Linked DNA regions of Homo sapiens: region 1 is linked to region 2. A link means that fine-mapping ties the variant in region 2 to the expression of a gene that starts in the linked region. Tissue or cell type: pancreas. Region 2 holds a variant in brackets; the other region holds the start of a gene. All regions are shown on one strand. Distances are between the middles of the regions.

The links. PIP is the estimated chance that this variant, and not a neighbour inherited with it, causes the effect. A credible set is the group of variants that fine-mapping cannot tell apart.
Region 1: MECR starts here. The variant in region 2 is the best candidate, but not a certain one, in a credible set for the expression of MECR in pancreas (GTEx, PIP 0.57).

What each region holds. Positions count from the first base shown.
Region 1 is chr1:29,229,331-29,232,245 of GRCh38, reverse strand. MECR (mitochondrial trans-2-enoyl-CoA reductase) reads left to right here and starts at 1,312. Exons shown (of 10, transcript NM_016011.5): 1 at 1,312-1,515. The coding sequence starts at 1,340. RefSeq lists enhancers at 1,301-1,410, 935-1,435, 1,436-1,936.
Region 2 is chr1:29,010,045-29,012,959 of GRCh38, reverse strand. EPB41 (erythrocyte membrane protein band 4.1) reads right to left here. Exons shown (of 21, transcript NM_001376013.1): 5 at 1,053-1,095. Among named protein-coding and RNA genes, the nearest start is that of EPB41, 97 kb to the right of the region's middle. The variant T/C (reference allele first, on the strand shown) is at 1,670.

The DNA of each region.
Region 1 (2,915 bases), 220 kb before region 2:
TCCATTTTAAGAGTAAGAAAGTGAAGACACAGAGAGGCCTGGTGACTTGTCCGAAATCAAATGGCTGGAAAATGGCAGAGCTAGGACATAAAGCCAGGTTTGTCCAAATCTAGCTCACAGTACTTTGCTGTGCTCTCTTCCTCAGAGGAAAGGCTTGGAGATGGCAAGCTTCAAGTCAATAAAATCCAGGAAAGGAACTCTTCCTTATCCTTCAAAGCCCTGGCTCAGTATCTTAAAACCTGTTTCCTGGGACACCTGCATCAGAATATTCTTGGGAGCTTGTAAGGATGTAGATTCCTGGAACCCCCATCCGCAAGATTCTAATTCAGTAGGTCTAAGATGGGACCTCGGATTATTTTTATGCACACAGAAGATTTTGAATCACAGGGCTGGCTCTAACAGCACCTCCTCCAAGAGCCCCCACCCCATCCCACCCCATCCCAGAGCACTTCTCTTCAGACTACAGCATTGCACTCTGGCACGAGCCACAGCTCGATCTGGGGTTTTAGTAATGTTCATGTCTTCCCTACACCAAAAATCAGACTAGATCCTTCATAGGGCTACACCTTTTTACAGGCATTTCCAGTGTTCCACTTAATCCCTTTCTACACTGTGAGCATTTTGAGAGAGGACCCTTCTCCTTGTGATTCCTGTCTTACATCTGAACAGAGTTTTTTACAATGCGTTCTCCCACCCACAATAGCATTCCTCTATTATTTCATCCAATCCTCACAACAATCCGGAAGGAGGCATATTATCCCCATTGTACCGATGAGAAAAATTCAGAGTTTCACCTGCCCAAGGTGGCCAAGCTAGGAAGTGGCAGGGCTAGGATTTGAACCTAAGTTTTCTAACTCCAAGCCCCATACTCCTGCCTCCACAGCAGCTTTCGTGTACTCTCCTCAGTGTAGGGAAGTAAGCTTTGCCTCCCTATGCCGTTACATGGTAGTGGTGATTAAATGAGATAATACCTTAAAGAGCCTGGCTCGGTGAGCACTCAATATATTATGTGAAGGGTAAACTGAGGCCAGGGAGAGTAAATATTTCCTCCAAATCAAACACCAAACTGCAGGCTGTAGACACGACTTTGGACTAGCCCCAGACTCTCCTTGTTGAGACAACAGCTTTGGCGGCCTCGCAAGCTCCGCACCCCCGGATCCCTCCGGGGCCCACACGCAGTCTAGCCAGGCGCCACCACTTGGGCAGCGAAGGAAGGAAACGCCCTTCAAAGGGACCAAGGGGGAGTGGTCACCCGGCGGGGCAGGGGCGGGGCGCAGGCGCGCGGTCGCTGGAAGATGACGTAGCCGGGGCGTCAGGCTCTGTGTTGGTTGGAGCGAGCATGTGGGTCTGCAGTACCCTGTGGCGGGTGCGAACCCCCGCCCGGCAGTGGCGGGGGCTGCTCCCAGCTTCTGGCTGTCACGGACCTGCCGCCTCCTCCTACTCCGCATCCGCCGAGCCTGCCCGGGTCCGGGCGCTTGTCTATGGGCACCACGGGGATCCAGCCAAGGTCGTCGAGTAAGAGACGGCGCCGAAGCCGGGGAAGGGGACTGGGGTTTCTGGAAGGCTTTAACACGAGCTGCGGACTGGGAAGAGAGGGACAGGGTCCGAGGAAGGGGGCAGAGAATAGCAAACCGAAGCCGAAGCCCAGGGCGTTTTTGGTAGGTCAGAAAGACCGTACTTGAAGGTAGCTGAAGACCCGAGAGGCAATTATCAGGGTATTAATGGCTGATGTTTATTGATCGAATATTGTGTCAGGCAATCCCTTGTTTAAATGGATGCTCTCATTTAATTGTCACAACAATGTTTTGGGGTAGTTATTGATTTATCCCCATTTTGCAGATGAAAACTGAGGCAGAAGAGGTAAAATCACTCGTCCAAGGTCACACAGCCAGTAAGTGACAGGGTCAGAATTCCAACCTATGTCTGACTGACCTGCGTGAGTTCTTACTATTATTATTATTATTTGGAAGAAGTTTTCAGAATACTTTTACATCCATTTGGATCTTCATGTGTCAGTAAAGAGTAGGTCATAGATCATTGTTTCCAGAGGGCAAGGGACTTGCCCAGAGTGATACCGCTAATAAGTGATTGGAACAGGAGACTGGAATCCATGGCTTCTGATTCCAAACTCATGTTTCTCTCCACTGCACCGTATATGCATCTTGGCTTGGTTAAAAAGAGCTGCTTTGGTGCCATACAGACCCAAGTATCTATATTTGGTCAAATACAGGCTCAACGTCTTAGTAGCTGTTTGGTCTTAGAGAAGTCATTCAACTTCTCGTTACTTTTATGACTTTGTCCTCCTCCTAAAATTCTGTTGGATCTTAATTCATGCTTTTTGCACGTGGTTGATAAAAATAGTATGTCAGTTGCCAACCATTGTAAATCTGCACATAAATAGCCATTCAGAAGGGCTATTGGGGCCACTGAAGTGGAGCTAAAGCAAAAGCACAGGTCTGGGAATCAAAATACTTGGGGTCAAATCCTTGTCCTAGCTTTGCATTTGGCAAGTTACTGAGGTTCTCTGAGCCTCGGTTTCATCATCTTAAAAAATGGAGACAGTACAGACAAAGTTCATAGTGGTAATCACCTAAGATCTATGTAGTGCTCTCCACCAAAAAACACCTGCATACTCTTGTGCAGTACCTTCTTTTTAACTCTTTGATTCCCAGCAAATAGTTTGATTATTTTCCAAAGGATGGGCAAATGTGGTATTACTTTAATGGTTAAAATTCAGGCTAGAGCTGGGCACGGTGGCTCACGCCTGTAATCCCAGCATTAGGGAGACTGAGGCGGGTGGATCACCTGAGGTCACGAGTTCTAGACCAGCCTGGCCAACGTGGCGAAACCCCATCTCTACTAAAAATACAAAAAAATTAGCCGGGCTTGGTGGTGGGCACCTGTAATCCCTGCTA
Region 2 (2,915 bases):
ATATTAAAAGTATTTTCATTGAAAGGAGCAAGGAGTTATATTTTTCTTGTGGTGTCTCAAATATTCTGAATATTTGTTTGCTCTGACTTGCATTTTAAAACGAGCTTTTATAGGTAGAAAGCAAATACAGAGAGTTATCAGTCCAAAAGAGTATTTTGTTTCTTCCGTTAAGAAAACTAAACAATTACAAATAGGGTCTAAAGAAAAACATTTCACCATAACAAAAGTGTTTTCTTCTAAGAAACAAATGAAAAGTAAAGTTTGTTTTCAGGTGAGTGTTAAAACTTACTAATCATGATAAATAACAACTATTGCATTTCCTGGAAGTTTCTTCAAAACTAAACTAAAAGGACAGGTAGTCTTAATTAGCCATTGGGCCTGGAACTGCAAAATACTAATCTGTACTTTTTTCAGCCCAGAAATATTTATCCCAGGACACCAGTCTGATCAGGGTGTAAAGCGGGACTATACATTAGAGTTAGAGCTAGGAGCAAAGCCACAATGTCAGAAGGGTCAGTGGCAAGCAATTCTTGTCTTTCCATTCTTTTTTTCTTCCACAGTCCTTTATACTGCAGTTTGGAAGAGGACTGTTAAAAGGGATGAAAACAACCATAAAGAGGAAAACATAAAATTTATAATGCAATAGTTCAGAACAATTTCAAAGGAATAGGATACGGCAGCAAACTCCTAGTAGGCAACTGCGGTTTCAAGTCACTACCATTTTGAGAACTGACTCCCATATCCTTTTTCTTTTCTCATCTTTGTTCTTTTCCACCTTCTGTTACTCTCAACTCTTCCTATCTTCCCCAACTTTGCCCAGTTGTAAAAAAAAAAAAATCAACAAAATCTGACCTACATCTCAATAGTATCCACCTCTGCTATATTTTTCTATTATGGAATCTCCTCCTTCCAGGAGAAGGCTTTATCTCGATTTCAAAGCAATCTGCAGTAGTCAGGATTCTAAAGTGACTGACTCACAGCCAGAAATGGTTGGAAATCCTCTGACCTACTAAAAGAAAGAAAGAACTATAAAAAGAGCTATATCCACTTACCACGAACCTGCTTTTTTATTTCTTTGGCGGAATCCAGCCATGTCTGTAAAAAGGAGAAAAGGCATTCACACAGAGCTCCAAAACACATAAACAACAGAGTACTGGAAGCAAGATCACTGACTATCTTCAAATAGTGCCTCCAGATCAACCTGCATTTCCTTTGATAGTCTTTGCATTAATTTCACAAAGCATAGTGATTTTGAGCAGACAAAAAGGGACCCTGACATTTGGGTTGAATATTAGCTCCACTACTTCCTGGCTGAGTGACTTTAGGAAATCTGTACCTCAGTTTCCTCATCTATACAATGAGATATTGGTAGTAGTGCCTACTTCATAGTGTTACTGTGAAGATAAAATGAGTTAATACATGTAAATATATTAGTAAACAGCAAATGCTAAGTAAGCATTGGTTATTTATATTATTCTATAAAGACTAGTAGATAGCTACAACCAGAATTAATTGACAGCATCCACATTTTATTTTCCCCTCCAACCCTGACCTTTAGTCTCCTTCAAGTTTTTTCTTTTTTTTTTTTTCTTTTTGAGAAGGAGTCTCGCTCTATTGCCCTGGCTAGAGTGCACTGGCACAATCTCAGCTCACTGCAACCTCCGCCTCG[T/C]GGGTTCAAGCAATTCTCCTGACTCAGCCTCCCAAGTAGCTGGGATTACAGGTGCCCACGACCACACCCGGCTAATTTTTGTATTTTTAGTAGAGATGGGGTTTTGCCAAACATGTTGGCTAGGCTGGTCTCAAACTCTTTTCTTTTTTTTCTTTTTTTTTTTTTTTTGACAGAGTTTCACTCTTGTCGCCCAGGCTGGAGAGCAATGGCGCAATCTCGATGTCAGCCCACTGCAACCTCCGCCTCCCGGGTTCAAGTGATTCTCCTGCCTCCGCCTCCTGAGTAGCTGGGATTACAGGTGCATGCCACCATGCCATGCCCAGCTAATTTTTGTATTTTTAGTAGAAATGGGGTTTCACCATGTTGGTCAGGCTGGTCTCCAACTCCTGACCTCAGGTGATCTGCCCGGCTCGGCCTCCCAAAGTGCTGGGATTATAGGCATGAGCCACTATGCCTGGCCAAAGTTTTCTATATCAGCACAGTATTCAGTACATGGCTTGTGCCCAGTTAACGTTTACTGAATGAATAAATATTTTGTTTTCCCAAACTACTCTTGCCCACGCCAATCTTGTCCTTCACTGTTCTCCCACTCCACTTAGAATCTGCACACCACTAGGCTAGGGCTCCTCAACCCATGGTAGACCATGCAAAATAAGGGCACTGGAAAAGAACCTCACCATTAACATCTTTCATAGGTCCCTTTGAGAAATGTTTAAAGACAGAAATTTCTAAATTTCTAGAATTGTTTAAAACATTTTAATGGAATACAAGATACATGTCGAAAAGTACATAAAACATAAGTATAAAGATCAATAAAATATCAAAGTGAACATATAAGAATTATAACATTACTAGCACCTCAGGAGCCCCTCTCTTGCCTCTTCCTAATCCCTCCCCTTCCCTTGTCCAAAAGATTTAAAATTGAATTTCAGTGGCATTTTATTTATTTATTTAGACAGGGTCTCGCTCTGTGGCCCAGGCTGGAGTTTAGTGATGCAATCTTGGTTCTCTGCAACCTCCGCCTCCCGGGTTCAAGCAATTCTCCTGCCTCAGCCTCCCGAGTAGCTGGGATTACAGGCAACCACCACCATGCCTGGCTAATTTTTTTGTATTTTTAGTAGAGATGGGGTTTCACCATGTTGGCCAGGCTGGTCTGGAACTCCTGGCCTCAAGTGATCTGCCCACCTCGGCCTCCCAAAGTGCTGAGATTACAGGTGTCAGCCACCGTACCCAGAGACAGTGGTAT